Linked DNA regions of Homo sapiens. The protein of the gene in region 4 interacts with the protein of the main gene of each other region in a pairwise test. Each region holds a gene or a part of one and is shown on either strand. Other genes may lie near its edges. The genes, in order: ZNF438, CCDC102B, CEP63, SYT17, SDCBP2, MEOX2 and MAD1L1.

Region 1 (4,284 bases), on a different chromosome or scaffold from region 4:
ACCTGTTACAATCCAGGATTATATAAAGTCCAGATTAAATTAATTTTAGTAAGAAAAATATTCATAGCCAAAAACAAATACAAAACCACTAGACACACTAGCAACCAAAAAAATTCAAGGCTACTATTATTAGCTCCAAGAATTATTTCCCATTCAGTAAATGAACCAAATTAGCTCAGCTATCCAACAAACTAAAAGCAGTACAACACAATCCTTTGTCCAAGTCAGGCATTTGCCACTTAAAACTACCACCTCCATTTCTAAAGCAAAAAAATAAAAAAATAAAAAAGGAGGAACAGAAGGAAGGAGGGAGTGAAGGAAGAAAAGATATTACAGAATTTCTCAACATCAGGAGTACTGACATTTTGAACTGGATAATTTTCTGTTGTTGAGAAGTTGTCTTGTACATTGTGGGACATTCAGTGACATGCTATAATGGCCTCAATCCACTAGATGCTAGGAGTAATGTCCCCACACACAAATGTGACAACCAAAAATGTTTTCTAGACATTGCCAAATGTCCCCAGAGTGTGTTGGAAAGTAAAAAATCATTCTGAGTTCAGATTCTTCACAGTATCATCTTCCAGTATTTATTTCACACTGCTTGGTGGCTTGCAATGCAGACTGAAATTAATAGCTTTGCAATTGAAGAACCAAATAAGAAAATACTCCCTGTAGAATAGTAACAACTTGAAGAATAATAGCTACGTAGTTATGGTTAAATTATTCCTTTCATCGACATACTGGTTTTGCTTACTATTCCCTAAGAATTTTCTTCTGGGTGTTCTTTTGGGGTTAAAACTTGGTTAACCTGTCACTAAAGCTTAGTCTCCACCTAGACTTACTAATTATTAGCCATTAGTGTAATGTGTTAAAATCAAACCTAAAGATTTTAATTTTTAAGCAACCAAATGTGAAATGAAGCAAAAATAAGTGCTACTTATATAAATTATTTAAATATATTCAAACATTTAGAGTGTAAAGTACACAAACAAGCATCCAGCTACTACTACAAATATATATGAGTTGAAGATAATAATGCAAAAATAAAAGTGATTGCAAGAAGTAGAATTTTGACAAAAACAAGAAATGGGGAAAGGATTCCCTATTTAATAAACGGTGCTGGGAAAACTGGCTAGCCATATTGAGAAAGCTGAAACTGGATTCCTTCCTTACACTTTATACCAAAATTAATTCAAGATGGATTAAAGACTTACATGTTAGACCTAAAACCATAAAAACCCTGGAAGAAAACCTAGGCAATACCATTCAGGACATAGGCATGGGCAAGGACTTCATGTCTAAAACACCAAAAGCAATGGCAACAAAAGCCAAAACTGACAAATGGGATCTAATTAAACTAAAGAGCTTCTGCACAGCAAAAGAAACTACCATAAAGAGTGAACAGGCAACCTACAGAATGGGAGAAAATTTTTGCAATCTACCCATCTGACAAAGGGCTAATATCCACAATCTACAAAGAACTTAAACAAATTTACAAGAAAAAATCAAACAACCCCATCAACAAGTGTGCAAAGGATATGAACAGACACTTCTCAAAAGAAGACATTTATGCAGCCAACAGACACATGAAAAAATGCTCATCATCACTGGCCATCAGAGAAATGCAAATCAAAACCACAATGAGATACCATTTCACACCAGTTAGATTGGCGATCATTAAAAAGTCAGGAAACAACAGGTGCTGGAGAGGATGTGGAGAAATAGGAACACTTTTACATTGTTGGTGGGACTGTAAACTAGTTCAAACACTGTGGAAGACAGTGTGGCGATTCCTCAAGGATCTAGAACTAGAAATACCATTTGGCCCAGCCATCCCATGACTGGGTATATACCCAAAGGACTATAAATCATGCTGCCATAAAGAGACATGCACACGTATGTTTATTGTGGCACTATTCACAATAGCAAAGACTTGGAACCAACCCAAATGTCCATCAATGATAGACTGGATTAAGAAAATGTGGCACATATACACCATGGAATACTATGCAGCCATAAAAAAAGGATGAGTTCATGTCCTTTGTAGAGACATGGATGAAGCTGGAAACCATCATTCTGAGCAAACTTTCACAAGGACAGAAAACCACACACCACATGTTCTCACTCACAGGTGGGAATTGAACAATGAGAACACTTGGACACAGGGTGGGGACCATCACATACCAGTGCCTGTCGTGGGGTCGGGGGAGGGGGAAGGGATAGCATTAGGAGACATACCTAATGTAAATGACGAGTTAATGGGTGCAGCACACCAACATGGGACATGTATACATATGTAACAAACCTGCATGTTGTGCTCATGTACCCTAGAACTTAAAGTATAATTTAAAAAATAAATTTAATTAAAAAAAGAATTATATTTAAATGCTCAGTATGTACTATCACTGGGCTAGACACACTGTTTTCAACAATAAATCTTCATATATATAAAAGTACTCATAAAATAGTTTAAAATTTGCTTGTGCAAATGTAAATTTTAAAAGGAATCTGAATTTTATTTACTATCTAGGATGTTATATTTCGCATGGTCAGTGTTAGAAACAGAGGGTCCTGTTGTTTTCAGATAGAACTTACCATCACTCCCCCTCTGCTGGGAGCTACCTGACACAATTAAATAACCATCAACCTGCCCTCACTGTGCCTGAACTTAAAAGTCAATAACACCTGAGCATCAATAGGCTATTGACTATGCAATTTTACTTTATACCATATATGGGTATCTGATGTTCCTGGGAAACTAACTGCAAATGTGGTGTAAATAAAGACTAATCATTTCAACTCCATTAAATGTAGGGAAGCTACAAGAGCAGATTTAAAACGTTGTGAACTGCAAAATGAGATGGCACCCCTCTACATTTACGTTAGTAGAGGGCTTCTGTTTAGAGTAATCATAGATCTGGTTATTTAGATACTTTCCCAATGAAAGCTTAAAACAAAATATAATTTTATATATTTTTAAAAATTCTGAAATTAACCATAAAATCTACGGCAGTGCAATTTTATATAATTCTTACATGGTTTAAATTTGAAATACTCATGTTAGGAAGTAACAAAATTGTGACAACTGTTGAGGTTATGGTATGCCATGAAAGATCTACGGGAACAAGACACATCTTTTTTTGTTTGTATTTTTCTAGTCTCCATGTTCTACAATGATCCAGCTATACGAGATGTAATCTGCAATTCCACCTACAATATATATCACCAGATCCCCTTTCTATGACAAAAAAAAAATACATGTCAATGTTAGAGATGGTCAGCAAAGAAACTCAAACTTATTCCAATAGGTGGAACTTTGGCATGACACACTTAAACCGGTGGAAACCTGCCTGAATACTTCACCCAACCCCTCCATCACCCTCTATTATGCAAGCTGCAACATTTCAAGCCAACTCCCTTATTTCTCTGGTGAGCCCTGTCAACACTGAGGTAATAGAACTGGAAAAACTCATCACTTCAAAAGGACAGTCAAATATCAGAATTTATTTCATTTGGTAAAAATTCTATCATTGCCAAATAAAGCTAATGCAAATATAGTAAAATATGCATGATTTTGAGTAATTCTTTTGTTGAAAAGGACTCTTGGGGAGCCTCAACTTCATCCTGCAACAGCTTAGGCATTCTTTTGCCCCTTTGCCCTTTTCATGCCCCATCTCACAAGTCATGGAAGCTGGGGAGGGGAGGGTGCAGAAAACCCAAATGAACTAATCGGCATGTATTTATGCATTTAGTCTACTCTAATTTTATTCCCACAGGTTTTTCCTCATACCCTGCTCCTCTAAGGTAAAGAACTGTTTTATTCATCTCTGAACTTCCAAAACCTAACCAAATGCCCATTATATAAAGTCATCCCTAACATCTACTACACAGCAGGCACTGGATTAGGGACTAGAGATAGAGAAGTCAAAGAGACAGACCTTGCCCCTACGGAACCTACAGTGGGGAATACCAGATACTGGCTGCATGAACCCAGTCAGGTCGTAATCAAAGACCAGTTAGCACAGTCCCACTGCCTATAATCTTTCTCCCACAGACAACCAAAGCTTAGATGAAAAACAAAAGCATGCTTTCTCTTCAGAAAAATAAATGGGTATCTCCAACCCTGACCACTCCCCTGAGTTCCATATTCACAGGCATGCATACTCAACATGTTCACTCGGAGGTGGTTACAGGGATTCAATGCATGGACTCCAAAGCCACAATGCTTAGGTTTGAATCCTAGCTACATCACTCACCAGCTGGGTGACTTCAGACAAGTCA
Region 2 (4,284 bases), on a different chromosome or scaffold from region 4:
CTTTAATATGATGATATAAAGTTTAAAAAATAATATTGCTAAAGTATATAAAATTTGTAGAATCTAAAATAGAAAATGTGAACCAAAATTATTTTTATGAAAAGATGTGATTTTATTTCTATGCATTTTTTGATACTTTGTTTACTGTCACAATTCCACAATAATTGGAAATAAAATTTAAATTTCTAGACAAGAATATTACTCAAATATTTCTCATAGATGAAAGGTCCTAAAAATTAATATCTAGGAATAAATATTAATCATTGTTGAACTGTGTGAAATTTCACTGGAAAAAAATTGAATCATGATTTTCTGAAAAGGTGTATTAATATAAAAATGTTCTTACCAAATCAAATGATTATCTTGTAATAACATGCAGTTATTCATTTTTATAACAGTTCAAAATTTAGAGATAGTATTAAACTGTTAACAATACAAGTTTTTACAAATATACTTTAAGCAACATACATGTCATTTTGCAACTGCACTTCCTACTATTCATAATTACATCTTTCAGCACTGGGTGTTAGCACTCGGCTGTTGCAAACAGCCAAGCCATATACAGTTAATTTAATTAGAAAAGATAAGTGTTTAAAGAATATTGTTAAGCTCAGATCTCCAGGAGAATTATAGAACAAGGCTTGCAGATGAAGCGGACAGGGACCAAGACCAACTCTCATGCCACAAAACTGGTCCCATGAAGACCCCACTGCCTGTAACCTCCTCTGTCTGTTGCCTCTACACTCTCCTGGTAATATGTGTCTGGCAAGCAAACGTATTCAAATTAGCAAATTTGAGCGGAAATTGACATTATAGCTCAAAATATTTCTGGGGAATACATGCAGCCAGGAACACTGATGAGAAAGCCATCAAAATCTTCCTGTAAGCACACTATTTCGGCCACCATTAAGGTAGAGACATCACAGCGGGACCTCAAGATCACCAATACGGGACAGTGAGTGGTGTCACTAAGCACCAGAGGCCACCGCTGCCTCTGGAAACAAGTTGTCTTTATTGCTGCTGCTTCTCGCTTAGGTATGGATTCTAGATGCTGTCTATTGCCTTGCGGTATTGGCTTGGCTTAAAAGTCTAGGTGGCCACCTCTGATGCACTATTCCTAAGTCAAGTGTCTGTACCCTCATTGCAAAGGAAACCCTGGTAGAGACTTACTGGCATTTTTATAATCTATGCACAGGTGTAGACTCTGTTTCATTTGGCAGTGAATTGCCAAAACACAAAATAGACACTGGAGAGTCAAAAAATGGTAAAGGTTTATTGAATATTCCATGAGTGACAGTTAATAAAGTAACAAAATAAGCTTGATTTTCAAATATTTACAAATATTACATTAAATAGTATTAACCAGATTTGCATGTCAATGTATTCATTGAGGAATATATATATATATACTTTATATATATAATTTCTTAAATATGTAAAGTAGAAATCTGTGTCTTTCATACATATATAAAAAATAATATCCTTTGTAGCATTTTTAATTTGCTGAAGCTTCTAACCTGGATTTTAAATCTCATTAAGAAAAAAATTGAACATTTAATGAAGCATGCTACTTTTCTTACATAGAAAATAAATTAAGAAGACAAAATGGGCTGGGCGCAGTGGCTCACGCCTGTAATCCTAGCACTTTGGGAAGCCAAGGCGGTTAGATCACTTGAGGCCAGGAGTTTGAGACCAGCCTGGGCAATATGGCAAAACCCCGTCTCTACTAAAAATAAAAAAATAAAAAATTAGCCAGGCGTGGTGGCACAGCCTGTAATTCCAGCTACTTGGGAGGCTGAGGTGGGAGGATGGCTTGAGCCCAGGAGGCTGAGATTGCAGTGAGCTTACATTGCACCACTGCACTTCAGCCTGGGCAACAGAGCGAGACTGTCTCAAAAAGTAAAGAAAAGAAAAAAAAGATAAAATGATAAAATGGAAAGGGAGGACTGAAGCTCAGCTTAAAGGACACAGAACAAACATTTTACAAGTGATAAAGGAGGTCTCTGCAGTGAAATTTGAAAACTGATTCTGAAGTTTGGGACAGTTCAAATTATTTTATCTCAGTCTCTGTTACTTGAGATTTGGTATTGCCAAACCTCAGCTTCCCAAATGTTTAGGTACACATAGGCCTATAAGAGGATCAGCTTTCCTGGCCTTACTCCAAATTTTCTACCTGGGAAGTCTTTATGAAAGTCAACAGAAATATATAAATTCTCAGTATATGAGAAACTTTTATACACTGGATAATTATTCATAAAACTGAACAGTACTCAGAGTGCAAAGAAAACTATAAAGTTTCATCTATTTGATGAGGAGGTTCTAGTCAAGGACAATGGAAAAAAATGAGTCCCTGAGTTTTCTGAGTTGATTTCTGTGCACTAGTCAAGAAGAGAATTTTCCCACTAGATGGGAATGCAGAAAAAAATACATTCACATCTCAGTCGAAGCCACCCACTCACTGATATTCCAGGAAGAAGAATTTAAAAGATTAGATGGATTTATAAGTAATAGCATATCCTATATTCTTGGAAAATGTTCTCTTGTGATAGAAAAAAAGACTGATTGCCTCATGCGGATTGCATGCAAATGTTGATTCATGGACACAGGAACCATGACTCATCACGTCCGTGGGATTGTTTCTTAAAAGAGGAGAGTAGGAAGACAAAGCCATGGAAAGCTTCCTTTTTTCTCTTATTCTTTGGCCTGTCTATGGATTATAGACTGAAGTCACTGAGAACTGCAGAATGTACTTACTCTGAGAATTGTTCATTTATTCCAAGAAAGTAAAAAGTATATGTTGTGTATATGTATATGGATAAGCGTGTTAAGACAGAACATGCATATCTTTAAAACTGACACCTTAGAATAGAAGTTTACATCTAGAAAAACACAGCTCTGCATTGCTCCTATTAGACTGCACTGGGGAAGTAATATTGTATGTGGGCTGGAGAGAAGTCTATAATTACCAAAAAGTTAAATGCTTCAAGAAGTAAAACCACGGAGATTAGAATGTGACTGAAATGTATAGGGCTAGATAAAATTGTCACTATGTGTACGAGCCTAAAAATTAAATTCATTTTTATTCTGTTTTCTACTAATGTTGGTTGCCTCTATTAGGAATTTACACTTGGTAGAGTAATAAATATTTATTCTGTACATAGATACTTGTATGATCACAATCTACTAATCTAGTGAAATACAGATGAAGAATCTGAAAAAGGGAATTGGTGGCACTAGTAAATTTCAGAGGGACTAATGAGAAACTTCTGGCAGAAAGTAAGTGGTAAAGAACTTACTGTATTTGTGAATGGCTAGCATGCATATTTATCCCTATTTCAGTCCATTCAAGCCAGGAAAATTAAAACTGTTATATAATATATACTTATATAATACATTGTGTGTATATATGCATACATATCCTTCTTGCTTTTCTGGTTCTGCCTATTAAGATTTTTATAACTAAGAGATAAAAAATAATTATTTTTAGATTTTGGAACCTTATTTATATATTAGATATTCCACATTGTGCTAATAAAATTGTAAGCTGATTGCATAGAAACGAAAATCCATATTGAACATTTCATATTACTATTCTCTTTCCCAGATGTTATTTGTTCTTGATCTTTATGAGAATTCACTGAGAAAGGCTATGACAGACTGTATTTTGCAAAGATCGTTGCCACAATGACTGCATCCCACACACCCTTATTATAAAATTGTTTTCACACTCCTTCCATTGAAAGTGCCTCTCTCTCTTTAATCTGAGTCAGACTTTGAGATTCTCACCACCGATAAGTGGGTCTGACTTTTGAGGCAGAATCATTCAAATGGCGTTTTCTTCTCTCTGTGTTCTTAAGATGTTCACTTGCAACCTAGCCCCAATGTTGTGAGGAAGCCAAGCACCCCCTTAAATAGCCCCAGTGCAGGTGTCCCAACTGAGGCATAGATGAAAACCGAGATGGACTGCCAGATATGAGTGAAAGAGGCTGCAGCCCCCAGCCTTCCATGCATTGCCAGCCTTTGAGCCCTTGCAACTGAAGGCACAAGTGAGAGATACAATGTCCATGCCAAGCCATGCTCGCGATTCTTGAACAGAAGACAGGGTGGTTGCTGTTGATATGTTTTAATGATAATTACTTGGAAAAGTTTGTTTCAAGATAATAGATAACTGGAACATAACAGCACTACAGCTATTTTCACAAAGGGGCAACAGCCAACATCACATAGCTAGAAGACATCAGACCAAAGATGAATATCCAGGCCAATTAAGCAAAAGCCTGATGC
Region 3 (4,022 bases), on a different chromosome or scaffold from region 4:
TAGAAGCATGGATTTAGGGGTCAAACATACCTGGATCGATAGACTGGTTTTGCCACTTACCAGCCAACGGGGCTTGTTATTTACTGGGCTGGTAGCCCCTCCTAGCCAAGGGGCTGGTAGTGTGTAAAGTCAGGCTGGTAGTGAATAAGGGGGGGGTGTGCTAAAGAACCTTATCAAGCAGTCCTCTCTTGCTCAACACTCATGCAGAGGAGAGAGGCAGGGAGGGCAAGGGACTGGCTGTCATGCACGGTGCCCATGGAATATCCATTGGAAATAAATGTTCATCGTCTGCACTGCTGAGGACAAGTTTAGATGGGAGACAAAGATCTGGATGTTGATGTGCCGCAGGCATTTGAAACGATGGGAGTTGATAAGATCCACCAGGGAGGCTGTGGAGAGAGAGAGGAGCAGGAGGCTGGGTTTGGGGCCCTGAAAGATGCCAGCATCTGAGGATCACAGGAAATAGATCTAGCAAAGGAACTAGAATGTGCAGTTACAGATGAGAAAGGTCAGTGTAGTGTACTTGCCAGCTCAAGGGTGTGGCCTCTGTGAACCCTCTTTCTGTAGTGGATCTTTCCCATCAGCGTAAAACATCCTGTTATTTCCCCTTTTTAAATAAAACCTCAGTTTTTTTTAATGCCTCTCTTTTACTGCTCTGTATGTTTGCTTCCCTTCACCCAAACACTTCTGGAAAGAGTTGTCTGCAGTGACTCTTTCCAGTTCCTCACCCCGCCCCACCGTAGTTCTCTTCCTAACCCTCTCCAACACCACTTCCATCCCCAGACTGCTTTCTTGCTCTTGAGTTCACCAGTGACCTAATCAGTGTCTGAGCATCATTCAGCACAGTTGGACTCTCTCTTGGCTTCTGTGACCTGGAACTTCTGGTTTCCTCTCTACCTCATCCTCCACTCCATCTCATGGCTTTTCCTCTTCTAACCTCTAAGTCAGAGGGCCCCCTAGAGCTCTGTCATGGGTTTTCTCCCTCAGCATTCTCTTCCCTAGAAGTTTCCATTCCATTCTCAAGCTCTTAATACCACCTATAGGCCAGTGACCCTTACATTTATTACTAATCTTGACCTCTCCCCAGAGCTGCTGTCTTAGATACCTAGCTGCTTATGCGATGTCTTCACTTGGATATCTGACAAACATCTTGTTTCCAAGAGAGAACTCTTTATTCTCCCTCTTGCTAAGATTCCATATCAGGACATAGCATTATGTTTGCCAGTTCCTAGGAGTTACTTATAATTCCTTCCTTACCCACATCCGCATATCCAGTCATTTGGGAGGTCCTGTCATTTCTTCCCCCAGAATCTTATCTCAGACCCAACCGTTTCCCTCCTGCACTTCTACCACCTGATCCAGACTACTTCTCTCTCACCCTGATTCTGGCAGTAGCCTCCTAACTGATAGTACTCACACCAGTAATTCAGGGAGCTTCTGGAGTTATCCTTTAGAAATGTAAATGAAACAGTGTCACCACTGCTTCCCTTCAGACTCTTCCAAGGCTTCTCTTTTTTTTTTTATTGAGACAGAGTCTCACTCTGTCGCCCAAGCTGCAGTACAGTGGCAGGATCTCGGCTCTCTGCAACCTCCACCTCCCGGGCTCAAGTGATTCTCCTGCCTTAGCTTCCCGAGTAGCTGGGATTACAGGCGCATGCCACCAGGCCCAGCTAATTTTTGTATTTTTAGTAGGAACAGGGTTTCACCATGTTGGTCAGGCTGATCTCGAACTCCTGACCTCAAGTGATCCACCCGCCTGAGCTTCCCAAAGTGCTGGGTTATAAGCGTGAGCCACTGCACCCAGCCCCAAGGCTTCTTACTGCACTCAGAATAAAATCCAAATGAATTAGTATAGCCTACAGAGTGTCAATAATCTGGGCCTAATCACCCATTGCATCATCCTTTACTGTGCTCCACCCATGCTGGCGTCCTTTCTGTTTATTGAGTGCAGCAAGCTTTAACCTGTTCGGGTCTTTCATTTGCAGTTTACCCTGAATATTCCCTTTCTCTTACCTCACCTTTGATTGGCGTTTTCCCCCTTGCAGACCTGCACTCTGGCATCCTCTCCTGAGCAAGCCTTCTTTGATTGCTGCCTCCCAAACCTGTTTCTCCCCATTTCTCTAGCTCATTGGCCTGTGTTACTTGCTTCATAGTGCTCACTACTATCTGAAATCATTTCATTACTTGATTTATGTTTGTACTGTCTATTTCTGTCTTTAGAATTAAAACTCCTTGAGGGCAAGGACTTTGCTTCTCTGGTTCATGGTGGGATCCTCATCACCCAGCACAAGCCCAACACTTAGGAGAGGCTCAGCTAGTTTGAACCAATGGAAAATGCCATTCCTGAGGTGCACCACATCGTTTCTTTTGTGTTGGTGTGCATGCTGTCCTTCAGTTTGTCTCCTCTTCCCACACCCTGTCATGTGCTCCTAAAACTCCCCCTTTACTTGGCTACTTTATCTGGCTTGGCAAAGCTTTCCCATATCCCCTGACCCATGTCAGGGAACGTTTCTCCTCATTGCTGTCATGGCACCCTGTGTGTGGCTCTGACCAGACTTTGCTATCCGCTTTGATTTCTGTCTTTCAGGGGCTAAGTCCTGCCTACATCCTCAGTCAGCATGCTGCCTAACACATAACAGATCCTAAGCAAATATTGGGTGGATGAAAATCACTACCATTCAAGGCTTCATTGTATTTATCAGTAAAACTGAAATAATATCTAATGGGGTCGAGAAGATTTACTGAAAATATATATTTGAAAGGGCTTTGCAGTTTTAAGTACTGTACCTATGTGCATTGCTGTTACATTCAGGAGATTTCTGAGTTTTAGACAGTCCCAAGCTTCAGCTTAAAATCTGTAGACTGCAGCCCGTTTCTGAAACGTTTGTACTACGTGTTGACTAGGAGGAACAATGACAGACTCTGTAGTCACCGGAAATACTTAAGGAATCATGAGGTACTATGTATTTCCTTAAATTATACTGTTTTTTAAAGCTGAAGTATCTAATAGTTAATGGGTTGTCCAAATTTGTCAGAACATTTGACTGTAATTTAATGTCTCACCATTTTTCAAAAAGATATATTAATACCAAATATTAAAATGTGTCAAGACTAAATCTGAGTTAGTGTCTTAACACACATTTTCCAAAATCTGTCCGTGATCAGGGTACCCAAATGAGATGAAAAGATTAGGGATTTGTAGTCTACATCTGGTGTTTACAGATAATGTTTTATTGGGCAAGTCATCTCATTCTTCTTGTCCTGGATTCCCATGAATTTTCATCTGGATTCCTACGCAGATTTTAGCTGAAGAGGGCAAAGTTGACTTCCCACTGTGGGCTGGACATTACCTTCCCTTGCAGACTCATTTGATCTCAACAAGTGTAGAAAAAATACTACAACACTCTGTTTCTGTGACATCTGCTTAAACCCAAACAATTCTTACCTTCTCTCTCTTACATACACATAACACCTGGTAAACTGTGGGTGATGATTTTCTGTTTGCAAAACACTCGAGTCCAGTACCTAAAAGTTGCAGATAAGAAAGATAATTATAAAATAAGCTCTATGGCATGAGAACATACGTTAAGCAAACAGTTGTCATGAACAGCACTGAAATGTAGAAAAAGTTAGAAATGTGTCAGCTTGTCCCAAAACAGTTTGAAATAGTATAAATGCATCAAAAAGTAACAAACAGAATCGGGGCAGAGGGAAAATGAGGGCTGTAAACATTGATTCACTAATGAATCTAGTTGTCCAGTCCAGTTGCTAGAGGAAGGCAGCCAAGTTACCTCTGAGCTTCAGAGGGGGAAAAGCAGAGGAGAAAACATTTACCTAAAAGTTTTATGGTGCCCATAAGATAAAAAAAAAAAAAAATCATAGACTTAAGAAAAGCACAGATTTTTTTTGTGTGTTTGAATAAGCGTTTTGTAAAGTATGTGAGTATCCAGAAGAGAAGTCCAACATTTTCATAACTGGTAATAATAATCTGCACAGCTCCCCCCACAGTATGCTTCACTGTG
Region 4 (4,284 bases):
CCAGAACTTGGAAGCACTGCCTGGCACAGAAGGTGTTTAATACACACTTGCTGAATTCATGAATAATGTTTTAAAGGAACAGAACCCTCTGTATGTGGATATTGTTTGTGTGAACAAGGAAAAAAGTGTGGAATGCTACACAGCAGAACATTAAAGGCATGACTTCAGGGAGAAGGAACTGGAAAGGGGAAGGCATTAAAGGAAGACATTAGGCCAGGCGTGGTGGCTCATGCCTGTAATCCCAGCACTTTGGGAGGCCGAGGTGGGCAGATTGCTTGAGGTCAGGAGTTTGAGACTGGCCTGGCCAACATGGTAAAACCCCGTCTCTACAAAAAATACAAAAAATTATCCAGGCATGGTGGCGTGCACCTATAATCCCAAGTACTGAGGAGGCTGAGGCACGAGAATTGCTTGAGCCTGGGAGGTAGAGCTTGCAGTGAGCCGAGATCATGCCATGGCACTCCAGCTGGGCATCAGAATGAGATTGTCTCAAAAAAAAAAAAGCGGGGAGAAGGATTACACAGCAAGAAAACACTCTGAAATAAACAAAACTGCATGAGGGAGTGAGAAGGTGGTGGCTGCCCCATGTGTGTGGGAGAAAAAAGGAAAACACTAAACTTTCCCTTTAATAACAGTTAACAGTTCTAGAGTGCTTACTATGGGTGGCACAGTGCTCAGCACCGTGTGTTTATTGATCTCACTGAATGCAAATAACAATCCTGTGAAGTGTCCTGTATTGTTATCCCCATTTTACAGCTGAGAAAACCTAAGCACGCAGATCTTGCCCAGGGTCACCAAAGTAGGTGAGTGGTAAAGCCAGGACCCAGACATCAGCTCCCCAGCACAGGCACATAACCCCTGTTCTCCTCTGATTCTCTGTCCTTACACATCTTTTCATGGTGTCACTCATTATAACACGTGTGTGCTACATTTATCATAAAATGTTAAGTAAAATATGAAGTGTCAGGGCTTTCCATGGGGGCTCTCAGTTTCCCCTGGGGTCCTCTCCTCATCTAAGCTTACAATAGGAGGTCCCTTATTCTCAGCAGGGACTTGGGAAAAGAGACTTCATTTTTTATCTGTGTCTTGGTTTAATATACAATAGGCCCCACTACCTGCCTGTCCACCATTTAAGGAGTCAGGGGTGACGGTCTTCTGTCTTGGCCTGAAACCTAGGAGAGAGTGAGGCCCTTGTCTATTTGTAACTCCATCCGGACAGCAGCCATCACAGACTGCATTAGAAGGGATCATTATATCTGCATATGGCAGGCATCCCCTGATTCAACGCAGACTCTATGGGTGACAGGCCTTGAGAAAACCCAGAACCAACCTGCTTCGAAGGGGTCTCAGAGGATAGACATTTGCAATCTTGGTGAGAAGGAGCAATAAGTTTATATAGGGGAAATCTTGTATGCAAGGGTTTTTCAGCCATGGATTGATTTCTTGGGAGACCTGGAGCCCAGGGTTCTAGACAAGATCTAACCAGAGGAGAGTTTCCAGTTACCCTGGAGAAGGATGTCTCAAAGGATGATGTCGATCCCCAGTTCTAGCCCTACCTGGGTGTTTGAGGAAATATAGATCCCTTGATATGTGGAGCTGGCAAGACCAGAGCTTGAGTCCTGATTCTATCAGCTTGAGACTTTGTGTAGGTTGTTTAGGTTTTAAGCCTCAGTCCCTAGATCTGTAAGTTGAGGATGAAGATATCAACTTGACAGGGTGGGTTATGGTGAATGTTAGCAATGATATAGGGAAGTACATACTGTAATTAGAACACAAGAAAGAATAACCATTACTCCTACTAACTCTATCCCTGTTGTGGTGAGTAGCTTCTAAGATGAGTCCCAGTGGTTCCCACCTCCCACTCTTCCTACCCTTGTGTAATCCCTTCCTCTTGAGTGTGGGCTGGACCTAGTGAATTGCTTCTAGTGAATAGAATATAATGAAAGTAATAGGATGTCATTTCCAGTATTAGATTACAAAAAGACTCTTCCTTGCCATTCTTGCTCCCTCACTTGACCACTCTGATGAAAGTCATGTTGTGAGTTGTTCTATGGTAAAGCCCATGTGGCAAGGAATTGAGGAAGGTCACTGGCCAACAACCAGGAAGGAACTGAGGTCCCCAGTTCAACAGCCTGCAGGGAACTAAATCATGCTGAAAACTGTGAGTGAGCTTGAAAAGAGATCCTCCCCCAGTTGAGCCTTCAGATGAGGCTGCAGCCTCAGCCAATACCTTGATTGCAGCCTTGTCAGAGGTATTCACACAGAACTATACAGCAAAGCTTTGTATACCTGAATTTCTGACCCACAGGGACTATGAGATATAAATGTTTGTTGTTTCAAGCTACTAAATTTTGGGGTGATTTATTATGCTGCAATAAATAACTAATATACCCTGGAAATACTACATTAGATTACACCCTGGAAAAATGGACTAAATTCTACCAGACAGTGTCACATGAAGCCTCTACTTAAATACTACATCCTCTGGGAAGACTTTAAAAATCCCTTTTTCTGAGTTAGGTGACACTGTTTTTTCATATGCCTCTCTATTTGACTGCAGGGAACTTGAATCATCACCACCATCATCATCAAAACTAACACATAGTGAGTACTTATTATGTACCAAGTATATTGCAAAGTCGTAAGTCATTTACTGTTCACAACAAACCTATGCCACACGTACTATTATTGTTCACATTTTGTAGATGAGGAAACTGAAGCTCAGAGGAGTTAAGTAACTTGCCAAAGACCTCAGTTATTATGTGGCAGTCTGAGGAAATTTGGCTCAAGTCCACATTTCTAACAATTATATTATAGGGCTCTATGAGTCCTGCCCCAGTTCATAGATGTTAAGTGGGTTCAAACCCAGGTAGTTGAATGCCAGACATTACGTTCTTAAATGTAACTCTCTCTAGATGCCTTCTGGCTCTAGGACAGTAAGTTTGACGTGCCTCACCTGGAGTTCATCGGGTTTTGGAATGCTACCTACCTGTAAACACTAGGCTGGCATTTTCCAGTTCTTCTTGGGGAACTTTGAAGCTGAAGGATTCATTGTAGAAAGGATCAATTGTGCCCCTTAAGAAGGACGTCTTCTTGGTTTTCACAAGTTTGAGTCCATGCACCAGCTGGATTTTCACAAAGGGGTCTGAAAATTAGACACAGCATCATAGAATGTTGGAGATCATGAAACCTAATCCGTCCAGTCATTCTGCCATTCAACCTCCCATCCATCTGTCTTTTTATTCCTCCATTCTTCTATCCATCCACCCATTCAACTTTTCATTCATCTCATAGTCCGTCCATTCATCCACCTGTTTATCCATCCATCCATCTTTCCATCCGTCAGTTCACTGATCCATTCATCATCTCACCATACTTTTATCTATCCATTTTCTATCCATCCAATTTCTCATCTATTTGACAGTTCAACCATCCATCCATCTATTATCCATCCATTTTCCCATTCATCTGCTTATCCCCTTCCTTCTTCCTTTAGCCATCTAATATTTGTTGAGCTCCTCCCATATGTCAGCATTGTGTTCATTTTACAGATAAGAAAACTGAGGACTCAAGGTGAGAAATCAGTTTTTAAAGATCTTGCTGGTGGACACAGAACCAGACTCAGAGCCTGCCCTGGATTTCTGTCTGTGGAAACCCATTATCATTTCAGTGAGCCCATAGCCCATATACAGGTGAATAGAGATGGCAGAATTATAATTCATTTTTAGATCATTTTACAGTTTACAAAGGGATTCATGTACATTATCTAATTTAATATTTGTTTAAACAACTTATCAAGATGAATACTGTTATTATGTCAGTTTTTGAGATTGAGAAATTGAGGCACATAGTGGTTAAGTAACTTCCCTAAAGCCACATCATTTGTAAGCCACATCATTTGACTCCTAAACCCTTAATGATTTTATCATACTGACTCTCCCATCGTGGTGAGTCTGAAACTCTTCAGTCTTAATACCATTGCCTCCACTGGCCCTTTCTAAGCCTCTGTTTTTATAATGTGGCTTTTGAGAATGCAAGGTGTCTTCTAGCTGTCACCTTATTGCAAAAGTAATTTATTTTAGCTACCGCACTTAGAGAAGACAATAATTCCACCACTGAGCTGAACAGATCCCTGACTACAGCTGCTTTCACAGTAATATCCTTTGCTGTCATGGAAGAAGCAACATGCAGATGGAATGGAATCTGTTCCGTTCCATTAAAAGTCATGTTTGAATGGTTTTTGCTATAATATACACACTTTAAATACAAGTCTTTTCAGAGTTG
Region 5 (3,515 bases), on a different chromosome or scaffold from region 4:
CAAGGTTCTGGGGCCAAGGCCTACCCAGGGGCCTCTGCCCAGAGAACTCACAACCCCCTCTCTGACCTGGGGGACAATGCAAACAGGTCACAGTGCATTCCCATATTAGGCCATCCCCTTCACGAAGAATTCAGGGGATGTGGGAAGTGGGGAGGCGGGGAGGGATCTTGACTCTTGTCTCCTTTGTCCTTTTGTTCAGACAGAGTTGTACCTGCAGCAGACAACTCTGAATTAAAGCATGAAAACACAGCAAGCCCCTTGGCCTGTTTTCTTTATACTGGGTGGTTTCTCTAAGGGGAGGCAGTGGGAGGGTTCACACCATCTTCCTCCAGCGCAGGGGTCACAACACCCGCACGGGAAAAAGCCACGTGGGCAGCGATCATCTCTGATGTGCAGGGAAGCAGAGAGCTGTGTGGGGCTGAGGCACCACTGCCCTCTTGGGGTCAGGCTCAGAGTCTGGAGCCACCTCCCCCTGCCCCCACATGGCACACCCTGCTGGGCGCCATGAGCACATCGCGTCTCACCTTCCCCAACACCCCCTAAAGTGGCTTCTCATGCCCACTTTGCAGAAGCAGAAGCAGCCACGGTCACACGGGGGGTGCCCCAAAGCCAGTGCTCCCTTTGTCAGCCCCACTGCCCCACAGTCCTACCCCATCCCCACAGTTCCATCCTGTCCCCAGTTCCAGTCATCCCCGCGCCAGGCTGGCAGGTGGCACGTGACAGAGGCAGAGCCAAATCATGGCTCTCAGAGGCCACGCGTAGAAAAGGCCCTGGTCTCACCACGGTTTAAGAGGAAACCAGCCCTGGCACGTCAGGGGACCAAGGATTCCAGAATTTTCAGTTACCTTTTTATTTTATTTTCAATAGTTTTGGGGGAATCAATTACCTTTGCGGACAGGGTTTTGTTTAAAATCAAATCTTTATTCAAAAGATAGTCAAGGCTGACAACTTATGCAGTCTGTGACAAAGAGCAAGTCAAGGCAAGGAAAAAGCTCTCACAAAGAACGTAGCTCTGTTCTCTTAAAATGTGTAACTGTTTTCCTGGTAGAGCAAAATTTCTTGAAAGGGGCCCAGTTGCGACTTTAAGCAGCGTTTAAACAGCCTGCCTCCGTGTCCAGCATTTAAATCAGCACAAGAGAATCGGCTGCCTGTGGGCCCTGCCTGAGCCTCAGCCTAGCTTGGAGTCTGAGGCTCCAAGGAGGCCTGTGTGTATAAGCCATCCCATGGTCACCCTCCTGGACACGCCCCCCTCATGGCAGCCCCCACCTTAAGCAGCAGGCCGGCTGCAACCCATCATCCGAGGGTGGTTGCCCTTTGCTGCAGGAGGGCGGGAAGCCCCCCCTGCCTGCCCTGCCCTGCAGTGGCTTCAGGCATCTGGGATGGAGTGGTCCATGGTGTGGTGGAGCAGGACTGGAGGCAACCTGGATACAGCAACAACAGTGACCAGGTTGGCAGCTCCTTCTCTCCACCCTCCAGCAACCTCCACCCCCTTCCGAGCCAGTGCATCCCATGTGGGCCTTCACTCCCAGTTCTAAGACTTTCGAATCACCAGAAGCCACAAGCTACCTTGGAGGGAGGGGAAGGGAGGATAGAGCTGGCTGAGCCTGTGCCCTGTGTCAGCACTGAGAAAGTGGAAGTGGCTGAGCCAGGTGCACCTGGGAGGCCGGGAGGTGAAGGGGATGGCAGAGGAGGGGTGAGGAGGGGTGAGGAGGGGTGCAGCCTTACTTTTTGACCATGTGCTCGTAGATCACACTGGGGATGATGGTCAGGGTGACAACGTTCCCAGCCGTGGCCAGAATCTCCATGATCTTTTTGTCCTAGGGAGGAGGCAAGTAAGCGATCACCCTAAGGATTGGGGACCAGGGGCAACTCTACAGGCCCCTCTGTGGAGGGATCAGCATGGCCACTGCTAGAGGACACCACTGATGGCTGACTGCAGGGCAGGGCTGCCTCGGACCCCGAGCCTGTCAGATGAGGGTCCCAGCAGACTCCCAGGTAAGGTCTTGCTTGAGTGAGAACATGGGTCTCCCACCTGAGGATCTCCTTGGTCAAATGAGCATGCCTCTTCCCACCCTCAGCTTGAAGGCCAGCGGTGTGAGCCTGACGCGTAACAGGGCCTCATCAATGCGATTCTCCTCCCCCTTCCAAGGGCTCCCAGAGACTCACCAAGCCCACAGTCACATTTGGGTTCTGGCCTCAAAGCATAAATGCCTCCCCATCCTGTGGGAGGTACTAGGCGTACCCATCCACCCTCTGGCTCCTGCTGCCTCCAGGGCCATAAGGATCCTCCTCCTCTTACATCCTCTTACATTTGCTTGTTTGATAAAAAGAGATGGGCCTGCAGACACCACTTAGATCATGGGAAGAACAAGAAATTAAAAGTCTCTACGCAAAGCGTGCCAGGTGGTCCAAACACTAACGTTATGGCCATAGAAGAGCCTCTGGCCCTCACTCAGAGCCTATTGACCTTTACATTACACATGTATGTTATCTGGTTATGTGTTTTCTTGGTTGTTCGAAAATAAATGTGAGAAGATGTGCTAGACAGGACTAGTGATGGCCACAGGTGGAAATAAACTTTGAAAAGACAAACGATCTCAAGAAGTGTGGCTGGCTGGGACAAACCCAGTTCTGAAGAACCTCACGACCCCATGGATTTCTGAATAACGATTTTCTAAAACATTCCTAAACTACTGAACATGATCCACTATACCAAAAAAAGTGCCATACAGAGCAAGGAGGTGTCCATGCAGCCAGCAATAGCTATTATGTATTAAGCACCTGCTATGTGCCTGGCACTGTGCTCAGAGCTCTAGGTACACTGTCTTTTTTTTTTTTTTTTGGAGACAGGGTCTCTCTCTGTTGCCCAGGCTGGAGTGCAGTGGCATGATCATAGCTCACTGCATCCTTGACCTCCCAGGCTCAATTAGTCCTCCCACCTCAGCCTCCTGAGTAGCTAGGACTACAGGTGTGCACCACCACGCTTGGCTAATTTTTTAGTTTTTTTTGTGGAAAGAGGGTTTCACATTGCCCAGGCTGGTCTCGTGCTCCTGGACTTAGTGATCCTCCTGCTTTGGCCTCTCAAAGCACTGGGATTACAGACGTGAGTCACCGCACCCAGCCCTACGAACACCGTCTTACTGAACCCTCACAGCAACCTTAGGAAGAGGATGCTGAGGCTCAGGTGGGGTAAGCAAGCTGCCCAAAGACCTGAGCCCTCCCACCACCCGGCAGTCCCTCCCTGGTGCGGCCACCAGCCTACCTTCAGCCCGATAACATTCTGCCCGTCCACCTCACACACGTAGTGGTTGGTGAGGAGCCCGTTGCGGGCCGCAGAACTCCCTTTGACCAGAGAGACAATCTTCCCCTTCTTGATCACGAAGCCGACGTGGCCCATGCTGTCCTTGTGCATGGTGACAGTCCGCTGGAACGGCCTGGCAGGAGGGACAGTGAGCTGTCCTGGGGACATGGCTGGGGTGAGACGGAGAGGCTGCCCGGGCCTGGCTACTCACCTG
Region 6 (4,284 bases), on a different chromosome or scaffold from region 4:
CAAAGTGCTGGGACAAGTACAGGCTTGAGCTACCACTCCCAGCTTGATTGTTAATTTAAGATATTTTGTGCACAGATTCTTAATTTAAGAAACTTAAGATAATATGTGTGCATAGAAATGTTGGAATGAAATGGTGCAACCAGAAACATTATCCAATACAATTACATCATTCCTCTCCTGTGACATTCTACACTCATAACAATTGTGAATATTTGTTCAATTTTTACCTCTTCTATGAATTCTAACAGGTATTTCTTTAGCTTAAGATTTTACTTCCAGCACTTAGCTCAACAAATATTTGTGTTACAAAATGATTAATTCAACATGCTTTGCATAGCAAAGGTTTTTCCCACCTGGGTGATAATTCTGTTTTATAGTTTACACTAAAAATTATTTCATACCCATTATGATATACAAATCTACATAGAAGAAAGAGCAGGTTTTAATTTCCATTTTATGCCTTGGGGAGATTGTTACTTACTTAAGAACACACAATTCTAATCAGCAAACCTTGGATTTTTATTCAGATTTTTTTCATAACAATTAAATTCTTTTTGACTAACCCAGGGAGGCCCTCTAAAGCCTTAGTTTTGATTAGGAATTTAAATTCTGCATGTATACATCTTTTCACATTAACTTGCAAAACTGCACGTAGAGATTTATGGAATAAAAATATATTGTGCACAATAACAAATTTTCAATTCAATGAAAACTGAACTATCTCTCATGTTCTGTGTTAATTTCCCCCCTGTGATGCTGTGGTTAGATTATTTCAGGAATGACTTCCAATGAAGCGATCTTGTCCTACACTGACACTGAGTTTGGTCACATGGCTTGCTTTGGACAATGGGACACTAGCAAATATGACGTAAGAGGCCTGAAAAGCCCTTGCTCACCGGAGTTTTCCCCCTCAGTGCTCCTGGGAATGCTTCTATCACCATTGGAAGGATCCCAAGCTAGCCTATAAGAAGATGAAACCACAGCTGAGGCCCAACCATCTCTTTCTTAGTCAGCCCACCAGCTGACTGGAGCTCCATGAGGGTTCCATGTAGGGCCAGCAGTATTACTGTCCAACTAAGCCCAGTCAAAATCTCTAACCTACAAAACCTAAAGCAAATAAAACTTTGGTTATTATTTGAAGCCATTAAGATTTGGAGTGGTTTGTTACACAGCAAAGGGTAACTAACACAAAATGTTAAAAGAATCTTTAAAACAACATTAAAATAGTATGTATAGGTATATATAATTCTTGCATGTAATTCTTTACCAAGCTCCTGAAGTCAGTTAGAAAGAAGAAATATCCAAGACACCTTCAACGTTTTCAAACCAGATTTACAAAACTGCTTCTAAAGATAAATGATTCTGCTCCGTGGTCAAACAATGACAGATAACCGTAGACCACCCCCAAAATGTCAAGTACAGAATCTTGTTTTTCCTCTTGGCTGAGAGCACAGTACTGGATCCTGTCATTTCTACAGATTGGAAGCAAATCCTAGTTTCCTAGTTCCTTCATCTACTATATAAAACACGGTTGCATTTCCTAGAATTCACCATCTCTATATAAGAACATTAGTGTGTAATTCTCCCTCCACATACACCTTTTTATTTTCCGTTCCCTGTTTAAAAAAAATAATAAAATAGAGGTCTGATGATGTAGACTTTGGATCCTGCTTTCCAGCATGCCAAATGTTGAACCCATAGAGGGAATTTTGTATGTGAAGTCTAAGGGAAGGAAAATGCTGTGCTCCATAACATAGGTACTAGTCATAATATGTAATAAAATACAAACTGCCAATAAATAAAACCACAGAAAAGTGTTCCTCTGTATATTTCTACTACCCATAAATAACCTACCAAAGCTGAAATGTAAAAATTAACAGAAGGAAAGCAGGTCATTTAAGAAATTGGATAAAATAACTTGCTCTCTTAAGACATGCATTCATTTGTCCACACCCTGTTGATATTTCTTTGGTTCCAATGGGATCCTGGAGGAGGTACACACAGTGAAAGAGGAAATGAGACTCTAGCCCTAAGAGTGCCAATCATAACTGCACTGTCCATAAAGATGTTTGCATTTGCCTTTCAGGAATGTTTTTGTAAAGATTAGCAACTGTTAACCGGCAGTAGGCTAGATTCTCCTCAGGGAAACAAGAATCTGTACAAGGAATTCACTGGGAACACTGTTAGAACAAATCATTTGTCATTCAAAAAAAATGCAAGAAAGGGACCTAAAAAGCAATTAATTTAAAAATATTATTTAGGTCTCATTAATTGGAGTCCAAAAACATTAATAATTTCAAAGTATTCTCTGAGTGGGTAGCAGAATTTTGAATTACTGACACCGATACAATTTCAAAAATATTTTGGGTAAAGGGGCAGAAATATTTACCAATGATCTATGTGTCCTTGCCTTTCATCATTTCCCAGCCATCTTGCACCTAAGCCGCACCATTTGACTATTCTAGACATTAGTGTGTAAATAGAAGTGACATGGCTAATTTCCAGGTGAAAACATTTAAAGGTCAGTGCATAAACTTCCAATTCTTTCTTATTTCTTGTAGTTACCATGGACACCACATGTTGAGATGCTAAAGAGTCAGAATGGGTCTGTGAGTGATTATCTGGAATGCTGGACATGTAGAGTTTGTATGGAGAGTGAGTAAGTAATGAACATTTTTATGTTATGCCATTGAGATTTGAGGGTGAATGTGTTACTGCAACTTATCATGACCTATCCTGAGCAATACAGAAAACTAATCTGGGTTTACCAACTTTCTAATATGCCAAATAAGGAGATTTTAACATATAAGCATGCACAACTCCTCACTGTATGCCATCATTATGTAAAAGAAATAATATTTTAAAACCCAAAAATACAGAAGGATAATAATCATAGGAGGATTCTTTCTTCAACTCAATAAGTATGGTTTTCTTTCAAATATCACTATATTATTTTTAATTTTGTTATTTTGCTGGCAAAATTTTATCATGGAATAGTATAACTGTCTTCCAAATGGTATTCAAGAATTCTGGATCTAGGTATTTCAAATATGGCAAAGAAGACTGTGGACCCAGGGCAATTAAAAAAGATCATATAATGATAATGCCCAGCTTTACCTGTCTTTCAGTGAGATCCAGATTCACTGCTATCTCGTATCGCCTCAGTCTGGTGAGATAATTATGATGGGCAAATTCTGCTTCAAGTTCTCTGATTTGCTCTTTGGTAAATGCTGTCCTTTCTTTCCTGGGTTTGCTGTTGACTTCTGACTTGTAATTTCCTTCCTGGGAGTCTGAAAAAAAAGGGAGACAGAATTGGTAATAACTCATTTATTCAAACACATGCAATCATATTATTCACAGTTATTGAATTACTACTTTTCCAGGTACTGCGCTAGACATGGAACAAATAGAGACCAAAGACAGCAAGACTGACGGCAGCTCAACGGGGGGAGATATAATTCTTATTTTTTTCATCTTCCTTCAGGTAACTCACAGTCCATTTGGGAAAGCATGTAATTTTCTTCTTATAAAATATTAACAAAACCTTTAACTGCTTGTAGTATGATATTAAGATAAACCAAAACCTCTCTAGAAAACACTTTTAGATATGAAGTTCTGTTTCATAAGTTGTTGAACATACGTACTTGAGGTCTAAGTAAGATTGAACATAGTAATCCTTTAAAAAGTGGCATCTCAATATAGGAGTATTTGAGAAATTCAAACGTTTAGCAACTGGACCATAAAAAATTTTATGCTCAGACTGAGCGTATGTAAAAGTATGTGTGTACTTATTGGCTTTTTTATCTGTATTTAAGTAAAATTCTTGAGGGCAATAGCAATGTTCTTTTATTTTATATTATACTTAGTCCAACATGGAATCTATAAATGAAATTGTGTTCATATGACTTAAACTATGAACAGAGTTTTTAAATGTGTTTTTCATTATATATAAGATAAACATAAGGTGCACAACATGTAACATCAGTGATCCACAACATCAAATCTTATAATGCAGTGTAAAATACCAATAGCAATTTTGAGTATATCATTCCATTTTTCCTCTTAAGGGTTCAATACATAACTAACGTATAGAATTTCTTTTATCCTCATAAATACCCCTGAAATGTAGGTCAGAAGACATTCTTAATATACTAAAAAGCAGAACGTGAATCAATAGTAAACACACACACACACACACGTCAAGTAAAAAGTAATCATACCCAGCTCTAATAACTTAGGGCAAATTTATCCTCAGTGAAATATCAACATAATCAAGAAAAAAGG
Region 7 (4,284 bases), on a different chromosome or scaffold from region 4:
CCCGGTGATTTTACGCACCTGACTTCGTTAGTCTTCTCGGCAATGCCCAGCGTGCAGACCAGGCTCAAGAGAGGTGTGTCGGTGTGCCCAGGGTCACGCAGCTTCCTGGTGGCCAAGCCGAGGTTAGAAGCTAGTTCTGGTGGGTGCGAAAGCCCCCGATGTCGGCAGCTCTGCCACCAGGCCCGCACAAGCAGGTGGTGTAAGAGGGGAGGCGTTGGGGCCGGCAGTGCTCAAGTCAGGATTGAGCCGTCTATCTGGAAGGTCTGTTGAGGGTGTGTGCTGGTGGCCGGGAGGTGGTGGCAGGCTGACTACCTGCCATTTTCCTGCAGTGCCTAGGCCCAGGAGAGGGAGCAGCCCCCGGTCAGGACCCAGCTGCAGGACACCCCATCCTCATGGACCTTGCTTCCCGCTCTCCGTCCCCCCACAAATGGGCTCCCAGCATAACTTCCCCCGAGGGCTCCTTTCCTCTCCCCACACAGAGCCCTGCTCCGGAGCGGCGCTTGCAGCACACCAATGACAGGAGGATTGGGCTTCAGGGAAGCAGGCGCCTGGAGCTGTGTCCAGTTAGGTGCGTGGCGCTTGCAGATCCAAGCATGAAATATTCATGCCTCCCCCGGCCCAGCAGCTGCGGCTTCTCATCTGGAACAAGGGGGTGCTTCTCCCAGGAAGGCCAGTGGGAGCAGGGGTGTGTCTGAGAATGCCTGGGCGCTCTGCCCTCACGATGGCCGCTGATGCCACAGGCCCGGCCTCTGTGCCCAGGCCACTCTCCAGCCTGGTGAGGTCTGTTCTGGGAAAAGAGAGAAGCAAGACAGATGTGGGCCTTGCCCTGTGGGGCCAGGGCACAGGCAGGAATCCCACTTGGGGTTAAGACGCTGCAGTCACCCCTCCAGGTGCCAGGGTCCCCTGTGGCCGTGGCGTTCTAGGAGAGATGGGCAGGGAGACGCTGGCGCCCTGTCGTGTAGCTTATCCTTGTATCTGCTTCACAGGCTCTTCCACTGTGCAATTTCCTAAAATTTTGGCGAGGCCCATTTATCCATTTTAATTTTATTCTGTGGATTGTGCTTTGGTGTTGAGTGTCAGAGCTCTGCCTCATCCAGATCCTGAAGATTTCTTTTTTAACATAATTCTGTGTTTTACATGTAAGTTCGTGATACAGTTTGAGTTAAATTTTATTTGAGATGTGAGGTTTCGGTCAAAAAAATTTTTTTTTAACTAAGTGTGTCCAGCTCCTCCGGCTCCAGCTGTAGCAAAGACAAGGCTGCCCTTCCTCCACTGAAGCGCCTTTGTGACTTTTCTGTGACTTTTCCGTATCGATTAATAGGGTCATATGTTGTTTATTCTTTAGCCTGTTGATATAGCAGATTACATTGATTGATTTTCAAATACCAAGCTAGCCTCGTACACCTAAACGAAGTCCCACTTGGTCACGGCATAATATTCTCTGTTAGAAAGTGGCCTGGACGCGTCTGTGGGTCTCTTTCGAGTTCCTCTGTTCTGTTCTGCTGGTCTCCACATCTCCCCTCCAGCGCTGCCCCAGCCATGTCTGTCTGACGTAGGAGCCGTATAACGCTGTGCTGTAGCTGTACGGTTCTCAACATCAGGAAGGGCAATTCCTCTACTCTTCTTTTTTGGAATTGCTTTCTATATACATTTTAGAATAATCTTGTGTCTCTCTACCAAAAAAAAAAAAAAAAAATGCTGGCCGGGCATGGTGGCTCACGCCTGTAATCCCAACACTTGGGGAAGCCAAGGCAAAAGGATCGCTTGAGCCCAGGAGTTGGGAGACCAGCCTGGGCAACACAGGGAGACCCCATCTCTATGAAAAAAATACAGCCATGAGTGGTGGTGCGCACCTGTAGTTACAGCTACTTGGCACGTTGAGGCAGGAAGATTGCCTGAGGCTGCAGTGAGCCAAGACCACACCACTGCACTCCAGCCTGGGTGACAGAATAAGACCCTCTTTCCAAAAAAAAAAAAAAAATATATATATATATGCTGAGGTTTGGACAGCAATTACCTTAAAACCAAAGATCAATTTTGGAAAAATTGATTTACTATAAGTCTTCCAGTTCATAAACATTGTATCTATTTATACAAACATTCTTTTTATTCCTTTCGATTCCTTTCATCAGTATTTCCTAACTTTCTGCAAACAGACACTATACAAGTTTTTGTTAGATGTATACCCGAGTATTTAAGATGTTCTGTAAATTATATTGCCTTTTAATTTTGTTTTTCACTTGTTTGCAATTGCTTTATAGAAATGTGGTTAATTTTTGTATGTTCATCTTATTTCCTGCAACCTTCGTGGACTCACTTAGTGTTCCAGGAGTTTTCTGCAGATTGCTCAGGATTTTCCACGTGGGCCGTCACGTCATTCTAGGAGTTTTCTGCAGATTGCTTAGGGTTTTCCACGTGTGCCGTCATGTGATTTCCGAGTAGGGACAGTTCTGTTCTTTTCCAATCCCTATGCTGCTGCTTTCCTTTTCTTACCTGCATGCCCTGGCGTGAGGAGCTCCCATGCTGGGTTGAGGATGAGTGGGGAAAGCCAGCTCTCCGCTGACCGAATGAGGGAAGGCGGCCAGACTCTTCCGTGAAGCAGCGTGAGCTGAGGGTTCTTCGTGGTGCTTTTTACCAAGTCGGAGGACTTTCCCTTGATTCCTGCTTTGCAAGAGTTCTTGTCAGGAATGGAGATTAAATTTTTTCAAATGCTTTGCCTGTGCCAATAGGATCATATCATTGTCTTCCTTTAGCCTGTTGATAGGGTGGATAACATTGATTGATTTTCAAATTTGAACTAGCCGTCGTTGTACACCTAAACTGAATCCCACTTGGTCAGGGTGTGATACTCTTTTTCGTGTGTTGCTGGATTCCATTTGTTAGTCCTTGTTGAGTATTTTTGCAGCTAAGCTCATGAGAGACTGATACTTATTTTTCTTTGTGTGCGCACCATCCTTGTTGGTTTCAGTACAGGGTTCATAGTGGAAAGGTGTTTCTCTGTCTTTTGTTAACTGAAAAAGGATTGTGTAAAATTGGTATTAATTCATATTTAATGTTCGGTAAAACTTTCTAGTGAAACCATCTGGGACTGGAGATTTTGAGTAGCATTTTAATTAGAACAAACTTGATTTATTTAATGGTTATAGGACTACCGAGGCTATTTTATCTTGGCACGTTTTGGTAGTATGTGGTTTTCGAGGAATCCATCCAGTTTGTTATGAGCATCAAGTTTTGTTGTAGTATTTTTTATTGTTATTTTAATAGCTTCTGGATCTATTATAATATTTCCATTTCATTTCTGATATTGGTCATTTCACTCTCCCCCCCCCCTTTTTTTTTTTTTGAGATGGAGTCTCGCTGTGTTGCTCAGGCTGGAGTGCAGTGGCACGATCTCGGCTCACTGCAAGCTCCGCCTCCTGGGTTCATGCCATTCTCCTGCCTCAGCCTCCCAAGGAGCTGGGACTACAGGCACCCGCCACCACACCCGGCTAATTTTTTGTATTTTTAGTAGAGATGGGGTTTCACTGTGTTAGCCAGGATGGTCTTGATCTCCTGACCTCGTGATCCGCCCACCTCGGCCTCCCAAAGTGCTGGGATTACAGGCGTTCCCCCTTTTTAATCTTTGTCAGTTTTGCCAGGGGTTTATCAATTTATCGTTGCTGGTCTTTCTAACAAATTTTTGAGACAGGGTTTCACTCTGTTGCCCAGGCTGGAGTGCAGTGGTGTGATCATAGCTCACTACAGCCTCAAACTCCTAGGCCCACGTGATCCCACATACCTGGGGCTACAGGTGTATGCCACCACACCTGGCTGATTGATTATAGGGATGGGGTCTCACTGTGTTGTCCAGGCTGGTCTCAAACTCCAGGGCTCAAGTGATCCTCTCACCTTGGCCTCCCAAAGTGCAAAGATTACAGGTGTGAGCCCTGCTCCTGGCCGGCCTTATTGCTATTTTTTAAAGAAGCAGTTTTTGGTTTTAATAACTTTTGTTTTCCTGTTCATTCCTACTTGTATTATTTCCTCCTCCTGCTTCGGGCTTGTTTTTCCCTTCGTTTCTTGAAGTAGGAATTTAGAGAAGCGATTTGAGATCTTTCTCCTTTCCTGATACAGGCATTGAGTGCTGTCCGTTTCCCTCTAAGCACTGCCTTGGGTGCGTCTGGCAAATTTCATTATGCTGTATTCTTGTTTCCATTCTGTTCTCTTTTTTATTTCCTTCGAGGCATCCCATTTGACTCGTGGATTACTTAGAAGTGTGCTGTTTAATTTCCAGGCACTTACAGTTTT

Evidence for each region.
Region 1: the proteins of SYT17 (region 4) and ZNF438 interact in binary tests that used the Homo sapiens proteins (3 or more experiments, as listed by UniProt).
Region 2: the proteins of SYT17 (region 4) and CCDC102B interact in binary tests that used the Homo sapiens proteins (3 or more experiments, as listed by UniProt).
Region 3: the proteins of SYT17 (region 4) and CEP63 interact in binary tests that used the Homo sapiens proteins (3 or more experiments, as listed by UniProt).
Region 5: the proteins of SYT17 (region 4) and SDCBP2 interact in binary tests that used the Homo sapiens proteins (3 or more experiments, as listed by UniProt).
Region 6: the proteins of SYT17 (region 4) and MEOX2 interact in binary tests that used the Homo sapiens proteins (3 or more experiments, as listed by UniProt).
Region 7: the proteins of SYT17 (region 4) and MAD1L1 interact in binary tests that used the Homo sapiens proteins (3 or more experiments, as listed by UniProt).

The regions. Positions count from the first base shown.
Region 1 is NC_000010.11:31,024,893-31,029,176, forward strand, and holds part of ZNF438 (zinc finger protein 438), read right to left. Parts: intron 1-4,284. UniProt on the Homo sapiens protein: Isoform 1 acts as a transcriptional repressor.
Region 2 is NC_000018.10:68,839,363-68,843,646, reverse strand, and holds part of CCDC102B (coiled-coil domain-containing protein 102B), read right to left. Parts: intron 1-4,284. UniProt on the Homo sapiens protein: During interphase, forms fibers at the proximal ends of centrioles to maintain centrosome cohesion. During mitosis, dissociates from the centrosome following phosphorylation to allow centrosome separation. Contributes to CROCC/rootletin filament formation.
Region 3 is NC_000003.12:134,561,916-134,565,937, forward strand, and holds the end of CEP63 (centrosomal protein of 63 kDa), read left to right. Parts: 3' UTR 1-3,116; downstream 3,117-4,022. UniProt on the Homo sapiens protein: Required for normal spindle assembly.
Region 4 is NC_000016.10:19,223,544-19,227,827, reverse strand, and holds part of SYT17 (synaptotagmin-17), read right to left. Parts: intron 3,146-4,284; coding exon 2,990-3,145; intron 1-2,989. UniProt on the Homo sapiens protein: Plays a role in dendrite formation by melanocytes.
Region 5 is NC_000020.11:1,309,075-1,312,589, forward strand, and holds the end of SDCBP2 (syntenin-2), read right to left. Parts: coding exon 3,513-3,515; intron 3,435-3,512; coding exon 3,263-3,434; intron 1,818-3,262; coding exon 1,726-1,817; intron 1,422-1,725; coding exon 1,367-1,421; 3' UTR 835-1,366; downstream 1-834.
Region 6 is NC_000007.14:15,623,629-15,627,912, forward strand, and holds part of MEOX2 (homeobox protein MOX-2), read right to left. Parts: intron 3,291-4,284; coding exon 3,118-3,290; intron 1-3,117. UniProt on the Homo sapiens protein: Mesodermal transcription factor that plays a key role in somitogenesis and somitogenesis and limb muscle differentiation. Required during limb development for normal appendicular muscle formation and for the normal regulation of myogenic genes.
Region 7 is NC_000007.14:1,820,140-1,824,423, reverse strand, and holds part of MAD1L1 (mitotic spindle assembly checkpoint protein MAD1), read left to right. Parts: intron 1-4,284. UniProt on the Homo sapiens protein: Component of the spindle-assembly checkpoint that prevents the onset of anaphase until all chromosomes are properly aligned at the metaphase plate.